Homo sapiens: one gene and its partner. The protein of the gene in region 1 interacts with the protein of each later gene in a pairwise test. Each region holds a gene or a part of one and is shown on either strand. Other genes may lie near its edges.

What was found.
Region 2: the proteins of S100G (region 1) and NSMF interact in binary tests that used the Homo sapiens proteins (3 or more experiments, as listed by UniProt).

What each region holds. Positions count from the first base shown.
Region 1 is NC_000023.11:16,645,573-16,653,902, forward strand, and holds the start of S100G (protein S100-G), read left to right. Parts: upstream 1-4,585; 5' UTR 4,586-4,631; intron 4,632-5,330; exon of another isoform or gene 5,331-5,426; 5' UTR 5,427-5,434; coding exon 5,435-5,569; intron 5,570-7,633; coding exon of another isoform or gene 7,634-7,817; intron 7,818-8,330.
Region 2 is NC_000009.12:137,449,335-137,456,950, forward strand, and holds part of NSMF (NMDA receptor synaptonuclear signaling and neuronal migration factor), read right to left. Parts: intron 7,153-7,616; coding exon 7,077-7,152; intron 6,301-7,076; coding exon 6,295-6,300; intron 5,974-6,294; coding exon 5,905-5,973; intron 5,896-5,904; exon of another isoform or gene 5,753-5,895; coding exon of another isoform or gene 5,412-5,752; intron 5,110-5,411; coding exon 5,057-5,109; intron 4,487-5,056; coding exon 4,397-4,486; intron 3,847-4,396; coding exon 3,722-3,846; intron 3,486-3,721; coding exon 3,402-3,485; intron 3,253-3,401; coding exon 3,219-3,252; intron 3,102-3,218; coding exon 3,031-3,101; intron 922-3,030; coding exon 842-921; intron 753-841; exon of another isoform or gene 692-752; coding exon 589-691; intron 341-588; coding exon 265-340; intron 158-264; coding exon 60-157; 3' UTR 1-59. UniProt on the Homo sapiens protein: Couples NMDA-sensitive glutamate receptor signaling to the nucleus and triggers long-lasting changes in the cytoarchitecture of dendrites and spine synapse processes. Part of the cAMP response element-binding protein (CREB) shut-off signaling pathway.

The DNA.
Region 1 (8,330 bases):
GAGAATGGAATCTACAATGAGGAAATCAATGAGCAGTCCCATAAGTACGTATGTATTTTTCCAGTCTTTTAAACTTGTTTTTTTCCCCACCAGTAAAAGAAAGCTGCTATGGTTTGAATGCATTCCCCAAAGTTGATGTGTTGCAAGCTTAATCCTCAGTGCAACAGTGTTGAGAGGTGGAATCTTTAAGAAGCAATTAAGTTATAAGGGCTCTGCCCCCATGAATGGATTAATGCCATTATCATTGGAATGGGTTAGTTATCATGGGAATGGGTTCCTGGTAAAAGGATGAGTTCAGTCCCCTTCCCTCTCTCTCACCCATGTGATGCCTTCTACCACATGATGACACAGCAAGAAGGCCCTCACCAGATGCCAGCACCTTGATCTGGGACTTCCCAGCCACCCTCCAGAACTGTGAGGAAATAAATTTCTCTTCTTTATAAATTAGCCAGTCTCAGGTACTCTGTTATAGCAGTGCAAAACAGACAAAGGCCTATATCATTTTCATCAGGAAAAGAACTTTCTTACACCTCAGAAAAAGAACCTTCTTATACCTCCAGATGTAAACCTAACACTTAAGTGTGATACTACCTGTGGTCCTAATGTTAACATACAATGGTTGTCCTCAGAGAAGCCCTTCTCCTGGGAGGGGCATGTGGCACGGTGGTTGAGGGTGCAGGCTGGGCCTGAACTTGAATCCCAGCTCTACTGCTGACCAGCAGTGTGACCCTGAGCAGGTCCTTGGATGTCTCTACAGACTGGGGGGACCAACAGCATCCACTTCATAAAGTTGCAGCAAGGATTTAAGGAGGCCGTGGGAGTTGGGTGCCTAGGTCAGCACACTGCCCATAGTAAAGATACGCACTCAAGAAGCACAGGCTATGGTCAGGAGACCTCTGGGAACTCAACTGCTGAAGGTGAGCACAGGCTGACCCAAAAGACAGTGAGCCTCACAGCCCAGGCAAAGGTTGGAAGTGAACTTTGTCTGAAGGTCCAGGGAAGGTAGACACCAGGTCAGGTGACAAGCAAGCTATACTTTCTGGGAAAGCAGCATTTGAGTATTCAAGGTCTCTTTTAAACTTCAGGATCAAAGATAACAAGAACCCATGGATAGCATTTCACACCCATTTTGTTTTGCAGGGACCAGGTACTAACACTGTACCCTCTTCCTGAAGGTGCTTTTCAAGACATTGCATGCTGTCACCTTCAAGCAGAATAACCCACAGAAGCCTGTGGTGCCCAGAGCTCTTAAAATATGTTACTCTTGGCTTTCCTAGGAAAAATTAAGCCTGTCCAAAGATCAAACAATTGAACAGTGAGGTGATAAATAACCTTTGCCTCTCCATTTTCCCATTACCACCCTTGTGCCTGTCGTTTCCCCCCTTCTCTGGTTTCAAAACGCACTCTTGTGAACACACCCTGTAATTATCACTTGTCTCCATATATTTTTAGTTAATGTTTCACAAGAGTATCTATTAGTGGATTTTTCATGCTTCCAAGTGCAAGTTTACCCTCATGCTTTTAAGTCTATGGGTAAAGAGAAAAATAAGAGACAAGAGATGTGACTGGTAGAAGTGAGCAAGTAAAAACTTAAGAAGCCGCACAGGCTGTTTTTCAAGTTCAAGTTTTGCTAGCATTCGCTACAAGTATAAATTCTGACAATAGGCAGCATTGGGCCCATTCTTTTTTTTTTTTTTTTTTTTTTTTTTTTTGAGACAAAGTTTCGCTCTTATTGCCCAGGCTGGAGTGTAATGGCAGGATCTCAGCTCAACGCAACTTCCACCTCCCGGGTTCAAGCAATTCTCCTGCCTCAGTTTCCCGAGTAGCTGGAATTACAAACATGCACCACCACGCCTGGCTAATTTTTGTATTTTTAGTAGAGATGAGGTTTCTCCATGTTGGTCAGGCTGGTCTCGAACTCCTGACCTCAGGTGATCCGCCCACCTCGGCCTCCCAAAGTGCTGGGATTATAGGCGTGAACCACCGTGCCCGGCCGCATTGGGCTGATTCTAATCAGAAGTTGTCCCTTGAAAGAAGAGATTTGTAGCCTAGAAGACTATTAACCAATACTGCTCCAAAAGTTTTTCTTAGAGATAATTTTTATATATACATACACACGTCATATGTAATATATGGGTGTATTATATAGAACATGTTATCTTTCATCCTATATCGTTACTAAGATGACATATAGTTATTAAAATCATTTCTTCAGATGCAAAAAATAGGCCAGGTGCAGTGGCTCACGCCTGTAATCCCAGCAGTTTGGGAGACTGAGGCGGGCAGATCATTTGAGCCCAGGAGTTGGAGACCATCCTGGGCAACATGGCAAAACCCATGTTGTATTTTTCTACAAGAAATACACAAAATATATATATATGTATCCGGGCATGGTGGCACATGCCTGTAGTCCCAGCTACTCGGGAGGCTGAGGTAGGAGGATCACCTGAGCCCATGGAGGTTGAGGCTGCAGTGAGCTGTGTTCACGCCACTGCACTCCAACCTGAGTGACACAGTGAAGTGGCTTCAAAAAAATAAACAAAAAAACCAGATGCAAAACATAATAAACACCCCATTTGATTTTAGCTCACTAGTGGTAATTTGAGAGAAAAGATGATTTAAGATGCTATTCAACAATTGGAGAGATTTGACGTGGGCTATGATAATGGCATTGTGGTTACATAGGAGAATGTCTTTGTCCTTAGGAGACAGATGCTGAGGTGCTCAGGGGGGAAGCATCTGGATGTTTGTAATTGATTCTCAAATGACTCAGGGGTGGAGGAAAGTATCTGTCCAGAGAAAGAGAAAGCAAATGTGGAGATGTTCGCAATTAGTGAATCTAGTCGAAAGGCAGACTGGTGTTCATTGCACTATTCTTGCCACTTTTCTGTAGATCTGAAATATTTTTTAAAAGATGTTTAAAAAAAGATAGTTCTTGTTATGATTAAGCACAAACGCCTACTTCCTCCCAGGAAAACAGAACATATGTGTAAAAACACTGGCAATTTTCTAAAATCTTGATTAAAATGCATTGCCAAAATCAGAATATTTTTGTGTAAAATCTTATAACTAAAAATAAAATGCCTGTCTTTACTCCAACCAGTGAGTTAATACATATTCTATATTGGTGCATAGCAAAGTCAAAGAATCCATAATAAAAACAAGAAGAATATATACAAGACAGCAAAGACACATGGAATGATAAATGCTCAAGACTGGCGGGAAGCTTTTAAGGAATTCTATTAGATTTCCCATTTGTTCTCCAATGTAAATAAGGCCCTAGAATTTTAGAGCTGAGAAACATCAGGGAGAAATACAGTCCCAATAGTCCAGTCCTCAGTTTGTAGGTGATATAAGGCAGAGTCAGGGAAAATTCTATAAGTGTGGAAGTGTACAAGTGTTTCAAAGCTGTAAAGTGCTCTTAAAATCCACCTGGAACCCCTTCCTGTGAGTTACAATCAGCATTAGATCAATGTCCCTTGGAAATGTCCTACTTATTTCATGGAACTCTTTCCAGTAGAAATCAATCTCCTTGGCAATTTTAAATCATGGCAGTTACAAAAAGTTTGAAGTATTTCCAACTGAACAAGAGTAAGTCGAGTGTTCTCACAAGTTTTTCGAATGATCACGAAATATATTTGGTAAGGAAAAGGATAATGAGAAATAAAAAGCAGACACAGGACCAACAAATAATGAAAGAGCTGAAAAAATGACCATGTTACTCAATATTGATTTGCCAAATAAAACCACAAATTACTGAGTATCTTCTTTCCACTTCTTAAACCTGCTTCTGAAGCAATACTTCCATTCATTCATTCATGTATTCAAATATTTAAGCTGCTAATATGTAAAGACATCAGAAGGACTTCAATGGCCATACCGTAATTTTTTAAACTATGTAATATTGTCCTTCTATGACAGCATTTTTTCTTTTTTACAGACAGGATCTCACTCTGTCACCCAGGCTGGAGTGCAGTGGCACAATCATGGCTCACTGTTGCCTCAACCTCCCAGGCTTAAGGAATCCTCCCACCTCAGCCTCTACAGTAGCTGGGACTACAGGCATGTACCATCACACCTGGCTGATTTTTTAAATTTTTCAGTAGAAATGTCTTGCTGTGTTGACCAGGCTGGTATCAAACTCCTCACCTCAAGCAATCCTCCTGCCTCGGCCTCCCAAAGTGCTGGGATTACAGGCATGAGCTACCGCACAGGGCAGCATTTATTTTTTCTGGATATGAAGAAAGTTATTTTTTAAAGCCTAAATATGCAACTAAATTGAAAAGAATCCTCTATATCTAAGCTTTATGAAATGTGAACTGTGAGCAAATATAATTCTACATTGGAGGGAAAATATAATCTCAGGGGGAAAAAAATCCAAGCTTACGACTCTGAACCATGAAGCAACTGTCGAGATGGACCTTTACTGGATCTTGCCCTTAATTATGGGGTTCATGCAGTCTTAAGCCTGAGTTTCAAAAACCATTAATAATTACCCTTAAATGGCCAACAAAAGGAAATTTTCATAATCAGGGTGGCGTGCCCGTAAAGACTATAAAAGTGTCATGATTCTGCTCAGCTCTTCAAACTCCTCTTTGATTCTTCTAGCTGTTTCACTATTGGGCAACCAGGTTAGTGTGATTTTGGTACTACCTAGAGCTCCTTCTGTTTGCATTAATACTCTGCTTCCTTTTAGAATGGTGTGAAAGATAATGGTCTGGAGAGAAGGTGAGTTTATGCCATCTGGAGATATTCCCTGTAACTTAGAAGCTAGAAGCTGTGGTCAAGTATTCTTCAAGACCACAGCCTGCAGAGTGCAGATCAGGTACATAAAAAGTGTAGAATGTCATTAATTACTAATAAAAATGTTTGGCTCCAGGGACCATCTCCTAACAGATGTACTCTAAGAACAGACATTTAACATACTATCTAAGATGTCTTTTTTTTTTTTTTTTTTTTTTTGCAGCGGAGGCTCGCTCTGTCACCCAGGCTGGAGTGCAGTGGCATCGCACTCACTGCAACCTCCGCCTCCCGGGTTCAAGCGATTCTCCTGCCTCGGTCTTCCAAGTAGATGGGACTATAGGCACGCACCACCACGCCTGGCTAATTTTTGTATAGAGACAGGGTCTCACCATGTTGGCCAGGCTTCCATGGTCTCGAACTCCTGACTTCAAGTGATCCACCCTCCTTGGCCTCCCAAAGTGCTGGGATTACAGGCATGAGCTACCGTGCCTGGCCTAAGATGCTTATTTTTTAAACATGTTAGTAGTTACTGGTGCCATTCCGACCCCGACATTCTCTTTTCCTTATTCTTCCCCATTTATGCCAAGGAAATGGCCCAATGGCACTAAAATCCTGCAGACAACCCTCAGCACAAAACTGTACTTCAGCTTTTTGGTAAGTTTATTTTCTTCCCAATTTATAAGACACCAGAATGAGTACTAAAAAGTCTCCTGAGGAACTGAAGAGGATTTTTGAAAAATATGCAGCCAAAGAAGGTGATCCAGACCAGTTGTCAAAGGATGAACTGAAGCTATTGATTCAGGCTGAATTCCCCAGTTTACTCAAAGTAAGTGGCCATCCGCAGAGCCCACTTAATGGGACTGATGGTGGGAGGGGAGGGAGGGAGGGGAGAGGACTCCGGTAGAGCCTTATAGGGACCGTCGCTTGAGGGAGGACACATGCAGGTGGGGTTTCTTCCCCTTAAGTCAGGCCACATTTCAGAAGGCAAGCTCTCAGAAAACAAGGGCCAAGCCTTCTATCCCTCCTGCAGCCTCAGCACAGGACTCTGCAGGACTAGCCATAATAAATGGAAGCAATGCCAAGTTATGCCTGGAAGACCCACAAGTCACCAAGCAAACCCAATAAGGCCTTCAGCATGGATTCAGTACTTCTGTGCCAGGCTTTAGGAAAACAAAGAGGACTGCAAAATAGTGTTAGCTGGCCTTGGACAGGCTTCATTTGTGTATGTAAAATCCCTCAACAAGACCAACACTTACTTAGCAGTCTGTTAGGAAAACCCACTGACAAATTGCCTTGTCAGCACTCATTTATATTTCAAAAGCATTTACATTTGTGTTCATCACTTAAATTTGTGTTAATGAGGCAACCGTGCATTTCTAAACAACTTTCAAGAAAGGACTAAATTTCCTGGGCCATAAAGTTTCACATCAAAATCACCCCAGAGTTGTCAAAATCAAAATGCATTCAAGGCAACAGAGTACAGAGAAGAGCTGATCGTCCTCACTCCAATATACAGTACTGTCTTTCCTTTTGCTAAAGAAAAAGCTGAGTCAGGACACTTGCCAAGGATGGTAAGGCAACTTACTCCAGGAGGGCCATGGCGACCCATACAGGGACCACTGAAACGTGTTCTTGCCATGGGGAGAGAGATTGGGCTCAACTCCAGAAAGGATAAGTGGGGGTTTATGACCATAGAGCAGGATGGGGGGGGCCAGTGGATGGAAAATTACCAAGGAAATATCCAGGATAAGGAGCTTCTGGCTAAATTGCCTTGATAGGATTCTAGCTGAAGGCAGGCCAGGTGATCAAATATTAAGGGTAGTCAGATACAAGGACAGAGAGGGAAGCCCAAGGTCAGGCCTAGTCGAGCAGAGGACTCAAAGGAGAGAGTCATTGTCATTTTGCAATTAAAAACCATCTTCACAACAGAAGTGACTATGGAATTGTTTTGTATGACTCAGTCACTATTTAGCTCTAACTTCAGGAAAGAACATTTCTTCAAATATTTTAACCAGCTCTCCAGATTTTAACCAGAAATGTCCCTTCTGCCAATATGACAATTGGAAAGACTTCTGTTTTTAATACTAAAAAAGAAAAAAGCTGAATTCAATGACCCCAGAATCTGATATTTTCTCATTTTCTCATAGTTGAAATATAGAAGAACTTGTAAAAACACTTAAAGTCACTAGCAGAAAAAGGGACTTTTTAATTAAACAGCAAAACAAGTTAGTGAAAAAATTTAAAATTTTAAAAGACCCTTTATTTTTTCTAAAAGGAAGAAAAATAATCATCTAACAGGAAAGCCTAGGCCATGTACTCAAACAAGTTGTTTCAAAAGGTAACACGGGTAACTTTTTCTATATTTTATGTCTTTCCTACAAAAAGTACGTAAGACATAATCTGGAACGAGGTAGGAAGACTAATGGTAAGTTCTGAAAGTCTACTTAACATGTACCTGATTATATTCCCATAAGGTTTCCATTACTAAGGTTTTCCACCATACTCTGTTTACATATATCATCACCATGCATGGTTTAGAATCTAGTAAAGGCTTCAGGAAAACAGTGTTTCATATTCATAAATCAAAGGCTGAATAAGTAACTTACAGTTTGGTCTTGTAATTAAAGCAAAGTGCTAAGTGTTTTTGTAGGAATCTTAGGGGTTAAAATATATCTTCCATAGAGATGTGCTGCACAAAATTGTGAATCTACTTAGCACTACTGAACTGTATGCTTAAAAATGATTAAGAGCGTAAATTCAATGTTATGTGTTTTTTACCACAATTTATATATACATATATATATATAATATAGTCTAATTTGAAACTGACAAACTGAACTGTTATTTCAATCGGTTTTCTAAGTAGTATTTTGCACAGATAGACTCCTACCTGAAAGTCCAAGTAGTAATGGCTTTAAGATTAGAGTTTTATGGTAGAGACAAAAATTAACTCCACTTAAGACACTGCAGGAAGTCCAGTAGTCAAAAAGCCTGCACACGATCTCACACGACATCTCAAGCAGTGGTTCTCCAAGTGTGGTCCCAGAGCAGCAGCATTGGCACCACCTGGGAAGCTGTTGAAAATATAGATTCTCCAGCTTGAACAACACAGCAAGACCTTGTCTCTATTAAAACTTTTAAAAAATTAGCCAGGTGTGGTGGCACACGCCTTTAGTCCCAGCTACTCGGGAGGCTGAGGCAGGAGGATCATTTGAGCCCAGGAGGTGGAAGCTGCAGTGGGCTGTGATCATGCCACTGCACTCCAGCCTGGGTGACAGAGCAAGACCTTGTGTACAGATTCTCGGGCCCCACCCCAGGCCTAGTGAATCAGAAACTCTGGAGGTGGGGCTGGCAGTCTGTATTTACTAAGGTCAGCAAGCCTATCGTGTGATTCTGATGCATGCTAAAGCATGGGAACCATTGAGCCAAAGTCATTTTGCATAGCTCAACGTTTGGGAAAAACTGGGCGGTGGTTAGTTAAGGGGTTGAGCTCTGGAGTCAACGTGTGGACCCCAACCCCTCTGTTAACCAGCTGTGGACACTCAAGTAAGTGACTGCCTGTCTCTGAGCCTGTTTCCCCACCTGTA
Region 2 (7,616 bases), on another chromosome or scaffold:
CCCCAGGTCCCGGTGCAGAGGGAGTGGCCTGATGGTGACTGGGCGGAGGCCTCTGCCCCTCACAGGACGTCGTCAAAGTCCAGCAGCTTCGAGTGCTGGCGGCTCTTCCACAGGCGATACAACCGGAAGTCAAAGTACGTCTCGATCATCTGCTTCCCTGGGCGGAGCGGGGGCAGGAGGCTCAGGCCTGGCCGGCCCTGGGGATCCCACCCCACCGTGGCCCCGCAGTGGCTGCAGAGCTTCGGCCCAGCCTGGGTAACTCACCTTGGGCTGAGAGCTCCAGGGGTGACTCGAAGGTGACCCTATAAGGAGTCATGAGGGTCCTGAGGTTCTGGAACAGCTGGAGGAAGCGGGGTGCCATGAGTCCGAGGCAGAGAGATGGGGAAGGAGGAGCGGGGAGGAGATGGGGAGCAGGGCCCACCCTCTTTTTTCAGACCCCCCAAACCTGGCTGGGCTCAGGCATAAAGGATTTCTAGGGGAATGCCCGGGGGAAGGAAAAAAAATGCCAGGAAACATGGAAGGCTCTGCCCTGTCTGTCCACGTCGGGGGTTTCCAGAGGTCTGGGGTGGGGCTTGGGGGTCACTGTACCTTCTCTCCATTGGGGTTCCCCAGAATGTAGCAGCCCATGATGTGGATGACGTTCGGCTCTGGGTTCACTTTGCTCATCAGGCGGCTCAGCCGCTTCCAGAAGCTGGTGGAGAGGGGTGGGTCACCCAGTGGCAGGGGACAGGCACCCCACTCCACAGAGCGGACCGTGGAGGAGGGGCTGTGGGGGAGGGACATGCCAGGGCCTGGACTCTGCCTCCAGCCCTCCCCGCGCCCAGGGCACCCGGCTTCTCACTGAATCATGTCCTCTTCCTTCTCCACTTTGGCAAAGGTGGCCACCTTGTTCTTGAGGAGATAGAGGTGTCCAGGACCTCCCTGTAAGAAGCTGTGGTCAGGCATCTGCTCCTCCTTCCTCCCCCTCTCCGACACACATGCACCCACGCACATGCGTGGGAGGTAGTTTTGGTCTTCATCCCCCGGCCACGCTTCTTCCCCTTGATCTCCCCCACCACACGTCTTTCCCTTGATCTCCCCCACCACACGCCTCTTCCCTTTGATCTCCCCCCCACGCCTCTTCCCCTTGATCTCCCCCACCACATGCCTCTTCCCTTTGATCTCCCCCACCACACGCCTCTTCCCTTTGATCTCCCCCACCACACACCTCTTCCCTTTGATCTCCCCCACCACACGCCTCTTCCCCTTGATCTCCCCCACCACACGCCTCTTCCCTTTGATCTCCCCCACCACACGCCTCTTCCCTTTGATCTCCCCCACCACACGCCTCTTCCCTTTGATTTCCCCCACCACACGCCTCTTCCCCTTGATCTTCCCCCGCCTCTTCCTCTTGATCTCCCCCCCTCGCCTCTTCCTCTTAATTCCCCCCAATGCCTCTTCCCCTTGATCTCCCCCACCACACGCTCTTCTCCTTGATCTCCCCCCAATGCCTCTTCCCCTTGACCTGCCCGCCACGCCTCTTCCTTTTGATCTCCCCCCCACACCTCTTCCCCTTGATCTCCCCCCCACGCCTCTTCCCCTTGATCTCCCCCTCCACACGCCTCTTCCCCTTGATCTTCCCCTGCCCCTCGTCTCTTCCCCTTGATCTCCCCTGCCACGTCTCTTCCCCTTGATCTCCCCCACCACGTCTCTTCCCCTTGATCTCCCCTCCACGTCTCTTCCCCTTGATCTCCCCCTCCACACGCCTCTTCCCCTTGATCTTCCCCTGCCACACGTCTCTTCCCCTTGATCTCCCGCGCCACACGCCTCTTCCCCTTGTTCTGCCCTCCACGCCTCTTCCCCTTGGTCTTCCCCACCACACGCCTCTTCCCCTTGGTCTCCCCCGCCACGTCTCTTCCCCTTGGTCTTCCTTGGCCACACGCCTCTTCCCCTTGATCTCCCCACCATGCCTCTTCCCCTTGATCTCCCCCTCCACACGCCTCTTCCCCTTGATCTTCCCCTGCCCCTCGTCTCTTCCCCTTGATCTCCCCCGCCACGTCTCTTCCCCTTGATCTCCCCCGCCACGTCTCTTCCCCTTGATCTCCCGCGCCACACGCCTCTTCCCCTTGTTCTGCCCTCCACGCCTCTTCCCCTTGGTCTTCCCCACCACACGCCTCTTCCCCTTGGTCTCCCCCGCCACGTCTCTTCCCCTTGGTCTTCCTTGGCCACACGCCTCTTCCCCTTGATCTCCCCACCATGCCTCTTCCCCTTGATCTCCCCCTCCACACGCCTCTTCCCCTTGATCTTCCCCTGCCCCTCGTCTCTTCCCCTTGATCTCCCCCGCCACGTCTCTTCCCCTTGATCTCCCCCGCCACGTCTCTTCCCCTTGATCTCCCCCGCCACACGCCTCTTCCCCTTGGTCTTCCCCCGCCACGTCTCTTCTCCTTGATCTACCCCCCAAACACCTCTTCCCCTTGGTCTCCCCCAGCCACACGCCCCTTCCCCTTCATTTCCCCCCCGCCACACGCCTCTTCTCCTTGATCTTTCCCCCTCAATGTCTACACCTCTTCTCCTTGGTCTTCCCCAACCCCAGCCTCTTCCCCTTGGTCTCCCCCAGCCACACCTCTTCCCCTTGGTCTCCCCCAGCCACACGCCTCTTCCCCTTCGTTTCCCCCCGCCACACGCCTCTTCTCCTTGATCTTTCCCCCTCAACATCTACGCCTCTTCTCCTTGGTCTTCCCCAACCCCAGCCTCTTCCCCTTGGTCTCCCCCAGCCACACCTCTTCCCCTTGGTCTCCCCCTCAAACACCTCTTCCCCTTGGTCTTCCCACCCCAGCCTCTTCCCCTTGGTCTCCCCCAGCCACACCTCTTCCCCTTGGTCTCCACCCCCACGCCTCTTCCCCTTGGTCTCCCCCACAAACACCTCTTCCCCTTGGTCTCCCCACCCCAACCTCTTCCCCTTGGTCTCCCCCAACTTGACTTCTTCCCCTTGGTCTTCCCCTGCCCCACCACGATTCTTCTCCTGGTCAGGAGACGAGCACTGAGCCCCACCTGGCAGAAAATCAGCATTTTCCAGATCTTGGCTCCCTTGTGGTAGACGTTCAGCTTCCTCTCTATCTCCTCTGTGGGAGAGCGGGTGTGAGTGCTGCGGCCCCCACCCCAGCCCCAGGGGCACCCCCACCTGTGTCTGCCCCTCCCAGGCCTGGAACCAGCAGAGAGAAGGCCAATGAGGCACATACCAAGGATGTCCTCGAAGGTTGCGTGCTCATGGTCCTGGGGACAGACACAGGCCACAAGGCCACATCAAGGCTGCGTCAGAGCCAGCAGCGCCACAGCACCCTGGGGACCTGGGGTGCCGGCGCTGGCCCAGGGTGGGGCCGCAAGAGGGCATCTGTTGGGGGCAGGCCCGGGGCGGGACTCACGTAGAGGATGGGGATGATGGAGGGGTCATCCCGGCGGATGATAGTGGGGATGTACTCAGCCTTGGGCACCTTGGAGGAAATGAGCTGCGGAGACAAAGAGCTGCTCAGGGGCCCCAGGCCCATCCAAAAGCCAAGGGGCTGTGGGAGCCCCCATGAGGCTACCTTCTGGCTGCCAGGCAGCCCAAGGGTATAGCCCTGTGAGACACCCTCCCCCAGGCAGCTGGAGAAGGCTGCGTGGTCCCAGGCAGAGCTGGCTGGACTCGGGTTGGGGCGGAGTCCTGCTCGGGGTGTAGAGGAGCACTGCCCGGGCTGGGCCTCACCATGACCTTTGGTGGCACGAAGCCTTCGGTGTCGCAGGCCACAGCCTCCAGGCCCTTCTCAGTGTCCCAGTCCAGGTCCTCGAAGGCCTCGTCCAGCGTGCAGTGGGAGCTCTGCAGGTCACTGCCTGGGAAGCAAGAGGGTCACCAGGACAGCAGGCCCGGCAGCACCTCCTATCCTGGCCATGGCCCCAAGGCCCACAGGGCCCGAAAGCCCCATCCCGGAGGGTCCTCCAAGCAAGTGGGAGGACCATACAGAGGTCGCCGCCAGCCCGGCAGGACAGGCCTGTGGACACCACTGGGCAGCGGCCTGATGTGGGAAGGGAGACCCTGGTGCGAGGCCGGTGGAAGGCGCGTGCAGGCATCAGCTCCAGCCAAGTCCGCCGGGCGCCTGGGAGGGAGTGGGGGCGGGCACCGCAGCCCCCTGCCCCTGAGGGCCTCTTGCGAGTGGCGGTGGGCACGGCCCTACAGGCGCCCCCGGCCAGCACTGCCGCGGCCGTTGTTAGCCCCGCCTTTGCGATCGGAGATGCTGAGGGCGTCCCCATCTCACAAACAGGTAAACCAAGATTCAGGAGTGCAAAAGCGCAGCCCAGCGGCCCTGGCAGGGGACCCCCAGCAGGGGTCTGGGGTCTAGGGGAGGCTCTGGGGAAGGTGGGCGGGCCTGTGCGGGGCACCTACTGTCTCGGGAGTCGTGGGAAGTGTCGGCTTTCATGGGGGTGGGGTCGCTCCAGGACCGGCTGAAGCTCCGCTCGCGCCGCTCAGCGAACGCTGCAGAGAGCAAAACCCGCATTAGCGAGCGGGTGGGGCGGGGCCTCGGGAGTCTCAGACCCCAGGCGAGGGGACCACAGGGGCCCTGGGCAGAGGAGGAAGCTAATGTGGGTGGGGTCTAAGGCACATGAAGCAGACACGGACCAGAGGCTCGGTTGGTTCAGGGGCAGGATCTGAGAACACTGGGGCAGGGCCAGAGGCGGAGTCTGGGAAGGGAGGAGCCTGGGCCGGGCTGGGGGCGTGGCTGGGAGGGGAGGAGCCTGGGCCGGGCTGGGGGCGTGGCTGGGAGGGGAGGAGCCTGGGCCGGGCTGGGGGCGTGGCTGGGAGGGGAGGAGCCTGGGCCGGGCTGGGGGCGTGGCTGGGAGGGGAGGAGCCTGGGCCGGGCTGGGGGCGTGGCTGGGAGGGGAGGAGCCTGGGCCGGGCTGGGGAAGTGGCTGGAAGGGGAGGAGCCTGAGGCAGGGCCCGATTGGGGTTGGGGCGGGGGTCGTTCTTATCGCAGCTAGCAGCAAGCAAAGCCCCAACCAGCCAAGCGCAACGCCGCCCCCCCACCCCCGCCGCACGGGGTCTTACTCTGGGCCTTCACCCTCCGGCTGCCGACCATGCGCAGGTGTTTGCGGAAGTTCCTGGGGGAGGAAGCCAGGGGCTGAAGAGGGCCGTGAGAGGGTGACGGCAGCCCCTGCCCACCTAGCCCCCGTCGGGTCATGGCTCTACTCTCACCCCTTCGGTGTGGGAAGCCAGTGCTCTCCCTGGCTCCTGGCACCACCTCCCACCCAAAGGCAAATCCCACCCAGTGCTCTTCCCGCGACAGCCTTCCAGGGCTCCCCTTCAACTCCAGAACAAAGGTGCAGTGCCTGGCGCTCTGGATCAAGTCTCCTCCCGAGCTGCATTCCCAGGCTCTGACCTTCCGTCCTCGCCCGGGACTTACGCCCTGAGCCTCCACGCCCATGTGGCAGAGGATCCAGCCTGCCTGCGCTGCAGCAGAGCGGGGCTCCTGTCTGCACCACCCCATGGCGGGCTGGGGGCCTGCAGGAGCCCCCTCTCCTGCTCTGTGTCCTTGAGCCACCTCAGGGGCAGGTCCTCTCCTCCACCAAACTTTGGACCCTGCCAAGGCCCAACATCCAAAACGGGCAAAAAAGCTTCCCAGACACATCTGTGTGATTGGAGTGGGGGAGGGGGGCCTTGCTGCTGGCCCCAGCCCAGACAGAGACACGTGCCCTCGGAGTGCAGGACTGAGGGTGAGATGCTTTCCTGCAGCCCGGGCCACATGGCCTCTCCTGCCTGCCACGTCCCCAGAGCAGGGCCAGGCCAGTGGTCGCCACCACCCTTCCCCCATCAGGTCTGCCAGGGCCGAGGGGGCCCAGGCCAGGCCAGCACAGACCAGAGATGGACCCTGGTGGCGAGTGGCTGGCAGGCCCTACCTCTGGATTACAGACGCGGAATCATTCTCCCGTTTCCGGCGCTTCCTCTCCGCGTAGCCCCTGAACACCCTGGGAAACCACCGCGAGTCAGCACTGCCCTTGGCCGGAGGCAGGAGGGACACAGACGTCGGGACAGTGGTGCGAGCAGAGGGCCCAGCAGGGCGTCTGGGGCACGGGGCCCGGCAGAGGAGTCCCAGCCTGCCTCACCTGTCGAGGCCCAGCTCCCAGCAGGCCCTGCTGCGACCTCGGTGCCCGCTGGGAGCCAGGCCCGCAGAGAGCGGCACTCCCTCAAGACCCAGGTCCCTGGCCTGCCCAAACCTATTTGGGGTGGGAGGGTCTCCCCAGGGACAACAGCTGTGCCCTTAGGCACCAAGTCATACAGGTACTTACGAGATGCTGAAGCCAGGGCCAGAAGGGATGGCGTGAGAGAGAAGACACAGTGAGCTCAACCCCGGGCCTCCCCTCAGCCCCCACCCGGTCCCTACAGTTCCCTTCTTGTCACTGACCCAATAGGTCCCTCACAGGTAACCCAGCCACCAGCAGGATGCTGGCTACACTGCTGGCCAGCCCTGAATGGGCAACGGAAGCTGATGTCACTGCAGCCCATGCCACAAGGACTGGTTGCTGAGACCAGGCAGCCTGAGGCTGGGTGTGGGGTGGACTCCCCCGGGCAGGACACTTCTTTGGTGTGGGGACCAATGCAGCAAAGGGAACTTCCCTGGAAGGAATCCCAGAACAGAAAAGCCAAATGTATGTCAAGACAGAGAGGAGCAGGTCCCTGCGGGGACCCTGAAACTGTGATGACCTATGGCACGTATGAAACAGAAGTAGGCTTCTATTTGGGGTTTGAGGGAGGGCAGACACAGGCTGAGGAGAGTGGATAGGAGCAGGAGAACCTGCCACACCCCACACCCCACTGAGAGCTCATCAGCTGCAGCCCTGGGCCAGGTCCCCTGACTGTGTGTGTGTGGGGGGGGGGGCTGGGCACCAGCCATGGGAGGGGAAGAGCAGTCAGCCCTGGCCTCCCTGGCAGGCCTGGCACAGCATAGGCACGTGGGTCTGTTCAGAAGCAGCCCCCCTGGTAGGCCCAGAGACTGGGAAAAAGTGCTGTTTCCTGAGCAGCAGAAAGAGACCACCCAACCCTGACCCCAAGTCGTGGGCACAAGACTCACGCTTGCATAGTTGTGGTTGCTGTCTGGAAGCTGAAAAGATTTTCCTTGGGGAACCAGGTACGAATAGGGATGTCGTCTAAGAGAGACAAAAAGGAGCGGTGGCTGGGTGAAGTAGGGGTTCCTGAAGCCTCTCCCTCCCTGTTGGGAAGCAGATGCTTCTGGGTCCAGGGGTCAGCAGAAGCTGGCAGCCAGGGCGGGTGGGGGGAGGGTGGCATCCCCACACGGGCACAGAGGGCAGTGCTCGAATGTCTGCTGCTCACTCACCAAGACCACGCTCTTGGTAACTTGACGCTTTGATTTTTTTGGCTTAACTTTCCCTTTGGCCACCCAAAGTTTGAGAAACATTCCTTTGAAAGCACAGTCTGTCTCCAGGAGGCCCAGGAAAACAATGCGTCTGTTTCCCTTGGGCAGAAGAGGCTCTGAGGCCTTCTCTGCAGCCCCCATGCTCTAGCTGGAGGCCCTCACCGAGGCTAGAGACCACCTTGCTGAGGGCTGTCCCCTTCCGAGGGCCCCCACAGCCTTTCCCTGATGCCCAAGTGT